3 linked regions of the Homo sapiens genome follow. The protein of the gene in region 3 purifies or fractionates together with the protein of the main gene of each other region. This does not show direct contact. Each region holds a gene or a part of one and is shown on either strand. Other genes may lie near its edges. The genes, in order: ENKUR, GRM1 and TRPC1.

Region 1 (3,655 bases), on a different chromosome or scaffold from region 3:
TCACTAGTATTCCTAGCACCAAGTACATTCTCAAACATCTTTTGAAGAAGGAATACATAGTAATTCTGTTTCTATAGATGGTGAAATCAAACGCATTTACTAAGCTGAAAGAATCACAGCTGATGGCTTCACTGTCAGTCGTTGTGACATGGGAAAATTCCCTTATTCCCCTCGCAGAGTGTACCATAGGGCTGTGGCTCACTTCTTCAGTGCCCCACTGCTCACACTTCTAGGGGGAGCATGCCGAAGGGCAGGTTGTGAGGCTCTGACTCCAAAGCAGGGTCTATGGGTCGATGTTTACAGCTCCTGAAGCCGCAGTGGGCGTGTGTTACAGGGTGCTCTTTTGGTTTAGCTGTCCATAGGTGGCTTGTGTTTGCTCAATTAGACTCCCTGCCTTATGACAAGGACAGAGGGCTTCCAAAGGACTTTCTGTATCCCAGGAGTCTTGCCTTGGTATACTTGAAGAATTGGATCACACGTGGGCTTGGAGAATGAGTGCAAGGTTTTATTGAGTGGAAGTAGCTTCAGCAGATGGGAGAGCCAGAAGGGAGATGGTTTTTCCCTGGAGCCGGGCAGCTCTGTGGCCCGGGCTCTCCTCCCACCACCCCGGCCAAACTCTGCGTTGTTCCACTGATCGATGGCCTGCCGGCATGCTGGTGCCCATTGGTGTGCTCTTTTGTTGGCACGCCCCTGTCAACAGCCTCCACTTATACGTTCTTCCATTGATGTGTTCCTCTCGACGTCCAGCCATTTGTGTGCCTGCCTGCTAGGGTCTCGGGGGGTTTTATAGGCACAGGATGGAGGCATAAGTTTTCAAAGACTTTGTCTTTTCTTTAACGAGACCACGAAAAAGAGACTTCAAAATATTCAAGATATTTCAGGTAAAAACTGAAGCATGTAGAAGGTAGAAGGTAGAAAAGCCAACTCTTGAATATCTTATTCAAGATATTTCAGGTAAAAACTGAAGAACGTAGAAGGTAGAAAAGCCAACTCTTAGGAGTAAAGTATCAGCCAGGAGCAGGCGTGGGAAACATTCAGAAAAGGGAAAACAAGCAACTGCAATAACAACTCCATTTATTTATGTATTTAGAGATGGAGTCACACTCTGACACCCAGGCTGGAGTGCAGTGGCACCTTGGCTCACTGTAACCTCTGCCTCCCAGATTCAAGAGATTTTTGTGCCTCAGCCACCCGAATAGCTGGGACTACTGGCACATGCCACGATGCCTGGCTAATTTCTGTATTTTTAGTAGAGACGGGGTTTCACCATGTTGGCCAGGCTGGTCTCGAACTCCTGACCTCAAGTGATCCACCCCCCCACCCCTCAGCCTCCCAAAGTGCTGGGATTACAGGTGTGAGCCACTATGCCTGGGCAATAACAACTCCATTTTAAAAGGCAGGAATCTACTAGCTCTCAATGGAGGGAAAAAAGTCACTGAATTTTGTCAATTTACAGGGTTTTGAACAAAGGATTTAGTCTGTACCATTTCTTTTTCTTCCATCATCAGTTGATACGTACCCATATGTAAGATTGCATACAAAATATTGATTACTTTTTTCTGCAAAATCTTTTTAGGATTATGGTGTCACACCTGAATACATATGTAAGCGAAACGAGGAAATAAAGAAAGCCCAAGAAGACTATGATCGTTATATCCAGGAAAACCTTAAGAAAGCAGCTATGAAAAGGCTCTCCGATGAAGAAAGGGAGGCAGTTTTGCAGGTGTGTGTTCTGCCATTTACATTCATCTGTAACTCTTTGGATCATCTCTGAAAGAAAGGTGTACCATCACTTTGATGATTAAAGTCAGCACTTGGATTTTGAAATCAGAACAATCTCTTTGGGTTACAGTTAAAAACTACATACAGCAAAGCTGACTCTTTGGAGAGAGCAAAAAGTTGTGATATAGGGATTCATTTAATAATATTTTATTTCCAATTTGGTGAACTGTTTTTTTCCTGAACTAGTGTTGTAAGGAAGCCTACCTTCCTCTACAACGAACATGCATGAAATGAAGCAAATAAAGCATTTTTATTTTCATTTTTATGCCCCTGAGTTTGTGAAAAATAATATTCATAAATTAGATATTTTTCACTAGATGGAGCTCTAGAATAATTGAAACTGTCCTTAAAACAACTTTTTTTCCTTTCCTATAAGGCAAATGTCCAAAATTTTAAATAAACAGGTGCTAGGTTTCACATATGTTTTTCTTGTTTTTAATTACATAGACTTAAAGATATATTTATATTGGATTTTTTAATGCAGGGCTTTTATCTGAAGCATTTAAAATATTAGGGGGTGTAAGAGTTTCTGCTTCATCATTTGTATGAGCGTTTAATTAAACACCTCTTTGTACTTTTTATAGTCATACTGTCTCTTATAGAGGCAGAAATAATACTTAATTCTTTGTTTATTTTTCATTTTGAAAGCATCCCACGAAGCCATTTCTAGTTTATTATTAATCTCTGTTGAAAAATGGATTCATATGCTGTTACAACTTCTGAACATTTTATCAATGTCATCATAATCATCAATAAACATTTCTTAAATGCTAAACCCTGAGGATATTTTAAAAGGCATAAGATTTTTTAAAATATCTGCAGTGGAGTATTGTGCAATTTAATTAGTGAGAGGTACTATGGATCTATGTACATGTATAGATGTGAATATGTGTATGTGTGCAGCTCTTAAGTTTCATAAGGTTCCAAGGCACTAGTCACCCCTGGAGGATTGTAGATCGTTAGCTGGGCCTGAAAATGTAGAGTGACGGCATGTCCCAGACAGTAGGAGTGGCTCAAAGGCAAGGACGGTGTCTCTTTGCTGACAGCAGCATCCCCAGTGCCTAGCACAGTGCCCAGTGAAAACGCAGATGTTCAGAAATGGTCTGCTGCAAAGGAGGAAGGCAGACAGGCAGGAAGGAAGGCTGGCAGACATGGAAGTGAGAATTGGCATGTCATTTTCAGGGAGAGTTCTCGTCTGTGGCCCATTCTGTCTCTCTCATTTGGATTTTCCCATTTTCAGAAAGTACGTGCCTTTGTGAAAGCCAGGTTTTTACACCTAAATGATGCTGAAAAATAAGAATATGACAAAGAACTTAGAAGTGACAGGTCCTTCCCTTCTGTGTCTTTTTGGCTGTAGGAGATAAGCAGCCCTCAGCTTCCCATTACGGTCGCTACAGAGTTACCCTTTGATGTGATGATAGCAAATCATCCACTGGACGCCTTATGAGCCAGGGAGCAGAGCTGCCATAGTAACAAAGCCACCGGCTGGCCTCCTGACGAGCCCTGAGCCACACTTCCTTCCCTAGGCAAGAGTTGCATGTAGTTCGATGACAATCTGGTTGTATGTCCCTGAGTAAGCCACATTCTGCTCATTCTTCATAAAATAACAGTCTCATTATACCTGGACAGGATCATCTGGTCTAGTGATTCCAAACTTCTCATTTTTAAAATGAGGAATATATATATATATATATATATATATATATATATATATATATATATATATATATATATATATACATATGCTGTGTCACTCTACATTTTCAGGCCAGCTAAAGATCTATAATCCTCCAGTGGTGACTAGTGCATTGGAACCTTATGAAACTGAGGAGCTGCACACAGACACACATTCATATCTCTACATGTACATAGA
Region 2 (3,655 bases), on a different chromosome or scaffold from region 3:
ATAGCAGAAAATGTGAATAACAGAGACTCCTTTGTTTGGGGAACCAATGAGGTGTCAGTTGAAATGTAGAGGAATAGAACTTAGGGTGAGCAGAAGAGTAGCAGTAAGGTTGGAAACGAGGCCCCCCTAAAGTGTGAACCATGGAAAGAAAAGCCTTGTAGGGCATGAATGAAACAAAGCTGGGAACATTGGATGCCTTTGCCCCCAGAGCTCCACTAGAACGCCAGGAGTTTGTTCAGCCTCACACCCTCATCAAAAAGACGAATGACAATATCTGCCAAGGGCACTGCAAATTTTAATTTTGGAGTTCATTTAAAACTGTTACAACATGAGGTACCACTTCTTCATGGTCAAATTGTACTTCTCACCTACTTGATCTGTAGATCTTGTGTGGCATTCTCCAGCTTTCACCCAGAAGACATGTTCTGAGTCAAATCAAAACCTTGGAATTATTTCTTCCACTGGTCTATTTCTATTATTATAACTCTCACAGACTATAGAGAAAGAACATACACATTTAATAAATAGAAAATATTTATTATACAGCATTGTCAAGATTATTTGACAAAAGGCAGTAACAAGCCGAAGGAAAACACATTTACAAGAAGCTGAACAACTTGTATCAGAACATACATCAAGGTGAAGAGTTTCGGCCCTCTTGGTATAGGGTATGTATGTGTACATCTCCAATTTTGAACAATGATGACATAAGGACTAATACTCTATTTATTCAGGAGACCCCATAATCAGGATAATAGTAGGCATTCAGAGTAATAAAGTGATCACAGTTGAATGAACGTGTTCACCAAAAGTCTTAGACCAACCTGATATCATCTTACACTTGAATATAAGTTGTTTCCTTATCTATCCTAATTTTTTAAAAATCTGAATGCACAAGCCCTGTGATATTAGGGATGTATATTAGTGGCATTAAGAGTAAAAAATAAGCATGATTCACTAATAAAGAGATCATATGCTTTCCCTCATGAATTTGTCAATTACTAAAAACCCATCTATTAATCACTGGAGCCATTGATTTTCCGCTCTCTGCTTTCTTACAATGAAAACATGGAACCAAAGTCCACATCTCAGTCATGAGATCTTTTCAATAAAGGTGTTTTAAAATAATTTTTAAAGGAAATGCAGTTCATTCTTGGTGTGGAACTGACTAAACTTGGCAATAGAATATGATGAAATATAAGTAATACAAGCCTCCAACATTGGAATGGATGTTAAATTCTGAACAAATGATGCAATGGATATTTAAAGATTCTAAGATGATTTTTGGCTGAGAAATCAGCAGCTTCAATATGAAGGAAGCATATTAAAATATGACTGAACATAAGGCATAAACAAAGATATTTAAGGGGGGTATAATTCATTCCACAAATAATAGAAGAAATCAAAACAGCAAGAAAAATCCTTTTATTGGTGGTAAAAAGGGATTGTAAAGATGGAGTAAGTGGATTACATGTCCATGGATATTACACAACAGCAAATAGCAGAAATAAAAAGTTATGACAGCCAAGACACAGGAATAAAAGTCCATGAACATAAAAATTAAAAGAAGGCAAAATGTGATTGATAAAGATTTTACAAATTATTAGCTGAGTTAGATGTTACTGTATGTTAGACACTCAAGTAGCTGTGGAAAATCTTTAAAAAAATGATATAACCTGGAATAATCTAAATGCTTTGTTCAATCTTATGTGTTAATAATGTGTGCAAGCTTATAAAATGTACCTTTTATTTTCACTCTCAGTTTTTGTGCACTTTTAATATAACAAATTTTCAAACCACTTCATTAATAACATATCTCCACATCAGAAAATATCTGAAAAATAAGTTCCATCTTAGAAGAAAAATGTCCATCCGAGCTGCATATGAAAACCTTGAGCCATAGTATTCAAACCGTCAAAGAGCTTCTGTAGATATTGATGACAATGATGTACAAAACATTATTGGAACATAAAAAATATATATAGTATATTCAAAAGACAATTTCTAATTGCAGTTAGATTGACTACTAGGTTGACATTGACCAGTCAATTTGACATTACATTGCACAAATTTTACGATCGCACATATACAAGGACACAGGAACACATTCACTCGCTAGTTACAAGGACTTCAGTGACAATAGGATAGAATTATTTGTCATTTAAACCAGTAATAGTTGCTATGAGTACACCATTAGATTCAAAGATGGATTTGTTTCTCTAATACGTAGGAGAAATAATGGCACCAAATTGTACATATACGCATCTTAGAAGTTCAACTTGTAGGTATTATTTGCTACAGTAAGTGGAAGGTAACAATTTTGTCACATGGTTTGTTCTTTAACTGAAGGTCAATGGAAAGCCCGCTTGGCACAAACACAAGTCAATCTACAAAAGGGTTTCTGCCACTCTCGTAACAATCTCTTGTTCCGGCCTTTTCCCCAAATCGCCAATAAGTGAATATGGAACATGAGAAGCTGATCATGTGTTTTTTTTTCAAAGTCTCATGCTGATGGATTGTTCTATTTCTAGCTCCTTCCTCCTGTAGCACGCCTGATGAAGCACTTTTTGGTGATAATTTTGCTCTTATTCCTGTTTTCCTAAATAAAGGGAATCTGCAGAGCAGCAGGGGGTCCATGCACCTTTCTTCAAGTGCAATCTCAAAGCTGGCACTGGATGGGTTGCAGTGGATGAAGAGAGACCCCTGTGCCGCTCCATTCCTGAGTCTCCTGAAGATGAGGAGTCTGTCAGCCCAGCGGGGAGAAGGGCTTCTGAGCAAGGAGCTGCTGTCCCATCATCCCATCATCCGTTTGGGATGGGTCTGGCCTGGGCCCTTCCCTTCCCCGCACCTGCTCTGTCTGGCTCCACCAGCTCACTCCGAATGCCATCAGGTGAACTCATGATCCGACTGGCATGTCCACGTGGGCTGTTCCTTGGCAAGCATGGCCCAGTGTGTGTGGGCATATATATATCTATGCACAATTGTGCAAAAGAGGACATTATGTTTGTGATGTCACTATTTGATTTGTGATAAAAGTTACATACCATATGGAATTGTGCTTTGTCAGAATTCCCTTTCTTCCCAGAGAAGGCTTCGAGTAATTCAAGAATCCGAATCCTGGCCTGGAACATTTTTTGCTTGGTGTCCTTCCCTCTCTTCCTACTTAAGGCAGCAGCAGCAGTAGCGGCAGCAGCAGCAGCGGTCTCCTGTCCTCCCGACGAGGCCCCCCACTCCCAGGCTTTTCCTCCCAGCTGTTTGCACATCTCTGGAGGTGTGGGAGATCTCTGGCTTGTCTTGCTTTTCTATGTGGACCCTTCCCCCTTACAGGGTGGAAGAGCTTTGCTTGTAGTCCCGCAGAATGACAGAGGCGTAGGATACGTTGGGAGGGGTGCAGAGCACCGACTCGGACACGGGGGAGCTGGGCACCGAGCTGCCCGAGGCCACCGAGTCGCGGAAAGGCGACGGAGGCGTCAGCGCAGGCGAATCATCCGGGGTCAGTTTGCTGGCCGCCTGCAGGTCCTCCTCCTCCTCTTCCAGTTCGTCTTCTTCCGTGTTCCCTTCCCGCTCGTGCTCATACACGTACTCCTGGAGGAGCTTAAACCTCTCGCTGTCGTCGTCGTCGTCCGCGGGCGGGGAGACCAGCTCCTCCCCAAAG
Region 3 (3,655 bases):
AAGCTTCTTTGAAGTCTCCATGTGCTGGTAGATTGGTTTTTCTCCTCATCTACCTCTTTGCTGAAGGTACAGTCCTTTAAGAATCCTGGTTTTATGCTTAGATGTTGAATCCAACTCCTCACTTTGTACAGTCTCCAGGCCTTGTAACCTGTTCTCATATGGGCATTAAGACTCAAATCCCTGCAATGCCCAGAACAGTAACTCTTATCCCCACCCATGGAGCAGCCATAGTGTCAGCTCACAAACTCCTGTTTTTCAGTTTTTTCTTCACTTTTGTATCTTGGTTGTTTCCCCTACTTTCTTGAAAGCTCAGCTGTTCATTTAACTGGATGTTCATTATATTTTAGCTATAATTTCTAGGTGATTTGAAGAAGAAAGGTTTTCAGATTATCTAATCAACCATATTGCTAGAGACAGAAACGTAGGAAGAGCTACACAAATAAATCCTTATGACATTTTATAAATTTCAGGTATAGCAAATAGACAAAAATAACTGCTACATGTTTAAAAGTTTAGATTGCTGTTAAAAAGGAAAGTACATTACAAATATCATATATTCCAGCTTTAAAGTTTTTGTTTTGTTTTTAAGACAGAGACTCACTCTGTCACCCAGGCTGGAGGAGTACAATGGCACCATTTGGCTCACTGCAACCTCTGCCTCCTGGGTTCAAGCGATTCTCCTGCCTCAGCCTCCTGAGTAGCTGGGATTACAGGCAGCTGCCACCACGCCCGGCTAATTTTTGTATTTTTAGTAGAGATGTGGTTTCACCATGTTGGCTAGCCTGGTCTCGAACTCCTGACCTCAAGTGATCTGCCCGCCTTGGCCTCCCAAAGTGCTGAGATTACAGTCATAAGCCACCGTGCCCAGCCCTAAGGTTTTAAAGATTATTTCTATTGTAGTCAAGGAGCTATACAAGAAAGAAAGAAAATCCCTAAAAATCAAAACCAAATAAATAATTTTCATCCCTAAAAATAAAAGGTTCCACCCTGCTACAGCTAACACAGTCATGCAAATGAAAAATCACATTATAGTCACAGAACCTACAGGAAACCTAGAGTGGTTGCTAAGCATTTCAGAGAAGTTTATATTTGCAATTCATTTAAAACAATGCACTATGTCAAAAAAAAAAAAAGACCAGAACACTCTTAATTTTTAGGATGAGTATATATGTAAAAAGAGGTCAGAAAACTTAAAATAGACAGCAAGTAGCTAGTTATAGAACAAGGATTACAATTCAAAATGCCTGTGTATGACAGACAAATATATAAATGCCATTCATTTTATAACGAAGTTGCTTTCAAGAGTTACATCTTTTGTCTTTTAAAATATAACACATAGAAGGAAGTGCAACATAATCTGTTTACTTTTTTGGCTAGATGGTAGTCTTTTTCAGTCAAGGAAAAAGAAACCATTTTCAATCAATTCCACAGGGAGTATACCAATTCAACAGCACGTCTTCTTAGCCCCCTCTCTAAAATATCTCCCATAATCATCTACTTGTCTCCATGTATACTGCTACCCACAGTCCAAACCCCCATGATCTTCCTCCTGGACTCTGCAATAGCCTCTTAACTAACACAGCTGCTGACCAAGATTCTCTCCTTAACCAAACTCTAGTCAGGCTTTTCTGAGCCCTTCTCCACAAGGCCTCCACCTTGGCCCATATAAACTTGAACAAAACACTTAAGTGTTTCTAACAGCTGAAGGCCGGATCCCTAGGATGACCCTAGCCCCTCTTAAAATGCCTGCCCGAGAAAACTCAAAGCTGACATAAAAATTTACTTTTGTTCCAGCCAACACCTGAAGACAGGGCCCCTATCTCTCAGCCTCCAGGGAGGGTAGGAGCCTAACTCCTTAAGTGCCTTTAGCAAACTCAGGTGGGATTCACATGGACCAACTCCCCAAGCCCCGTATTTTGTAATTTTTCACTTCCCTGACTCCACTGAGCCCACACTCACCCCCTTCCTTGTTTACTCTTTTCCCTATTGCAACTTATATTACTTACTAATACTTTATACTGTAGCACAGGGGTCAACAAAGTTTTCTGAAAAAGGGTTAGAGAGTAAATATTTTAAGCTTTGTGGGCCATGCACTCTCAGTCACAGCTACTCAACTCTGCCCTTTCAACACAAAAGCAGCCACAGACCATATGTAAACAAATGATAGTGGATGTGTTCTAAGAAAATTTTGTTTATGGACACTGAAATTTGAATTTTATAGACTTTTCATGTGTTACGAAATTTTTTTTAACCATTTGAAATATAAAATGTAAAAAACCAGTTTTAGCTCCAAGACCTCACAGAACAGGCAGATATGGTCTGTGGCCCATAGTTTGCTCACTCCTGCTCTAGCCCCACCCCTTCAATCCACTCTGCACTCCACAGCTAGAGTTATCGGTTAAAAATTCAAAACACAAGCCGGGCGCGGTGGCTCATGCCTGTAATCCCAGCACTTTGGGAGGCTGAGGCAGGCGGATCATGAGGTCAGGAGATGGAGACCATCTTGGCTAACACAGTGAAACCCCGCCTCTACTAAAAATACAAAAAATTAGCCGGGCATGGTGGGGGGCACCTGTAGTCCCAGCTACTTGGGAGGCTGAGGCAGGAGAATGGCGTGAACGTGGGAGGCGGAGCTTGCAGTGAACCGAGATCACGCCACTGCACTCTAGCCTGGGCGACAGAGCGAGACTCGGTCTCAAAAAAAAAAAAAAAAAAAAAAAAAAAATCAAAACATATCAAGCTTACAAACTTTGTGATTTTTCTATCACACTTAAAATAAAGGCCAAATTTCTACTGTGGCCTACAAAGCCCTATAGGACTTAGTTAGACCTTGTTAACATTCTGAATTCATCTTGTGCCTCTCTGCGGCTCAGCCAATGATCATTCCAAACCAATGTTTTCCAAACTGCAGGTTGCAACCCATTAACAGTCATAAAATCAATTTAGTGAGTCCTAACCAGCAATTTAAAAAAAATGAACTAGTATACAAAATACCAGAGTGATCCCATAGATCCTTAGCAACAAATTTACTCTGGCCAACTGTAATAAACCCTTGAGAAATACAATGGAGAAATGTTACAATACTGATTAAGAACAGGTGATTCCACCTCTTCCTCATTAGCATCTCGTTTGATTTTATGGCAAAGAGAGTATCAATGTTGTTCAGTTTAATTTTATATTAACCAAATTTGAAGTTAGTTGTGAAGTGTGAGAGAATTTAATGTCAAAAAATTTGTAAAGCTTTTCAAACCAAGTTTCTGTAACAAACCTGAGTGTGGCAATTGCAACATTCTAACTGAAATATTACCAATGATGCTTAAAACAGAAAGTTTTATTAAGAGGAAAAAGAATGATGATGTGAAAAAATAAAAAGACATGATCAAGTTCAGTTGCTGGATCTGGAAATATAAATGACAATACTGATAAAAATGTTAACTGACATCAAACTTCAAATTAGCTTGAACCAAATTTTAAAAAGGAAAAAAAAAAAAAACCCATGCAGACTTTTTACAGTGAAAATGATTTAAAATGTAGCTTTATCAAATGTGCAAAACTCGTATTACAGACCCCAATGTATTTATAACCATATTATTGTAAATGAAACCTTCAAAATTAAAGATACTAAAAAACATGGTAGGCTAAACTGTTTATAACA

Evidence for each region.
Region 1: the proteins of TRPC1 (region 3) and ENKUR purify together in Homo sapiens (affinity purification with western blotting, with the first as the bait; one study listed by BioGRID). This does not show direct contact.
Region 2: the proteins of TRPC1 (region 3) and GRM1 purify together in Homo sapiens (affinity purification with western blotting, with the first as the bait; one study listed by BioGRID). This does not show direct contact.

The regions. Positions count from the first base shown.
Region 1 is NC_000010.11:24,988,531-24,992,185, reverse strand, and holds part of ENKUR (enkurin), read left to right. Parts: intron 1-1,576; coding exon 1,577-1,723; intron 1,724-3,655. UniProt on the Homo sapiens protein: Adapter that functions to localize a calcium-sensitive signal transduction machinery in sperm to a calcium-permeable ion channel.
Region 2 is NC_000006.12:146,434,463-146,438,117, reverse strand, and holds the end of GRM1 (metabotropic glutamate receptor 1 isoform alpha precursor), read right to left. Parts: coding exon 3,322-3,655; 3' UTR 517-3,321; downstream 1-516. UniProt on the Homo sapiens protein: G-protein coupled receptor for glutamate. Ligand binding causes a conformation change that triggers signaling via guanine nucleotide-binding proteins (G proteins) and modulates the activity of down-stream effectors.
Region 3 is NC_000003.12:142,730,445-142,734,099, reverse strand, and holds part of TRPC1 (short transient receptor potential channel 1), read right to left. Parts: intron 1-3,655. UniProt on the Homo sapiens protein: Forms a receptor-activated non-selective calcium permeant cation channel. Forms a heteromeric ion channel with TRPC4 or TRPC5 that has reduced calcium permeability compared to the homomeric TRPC4 or TRPC5 channel.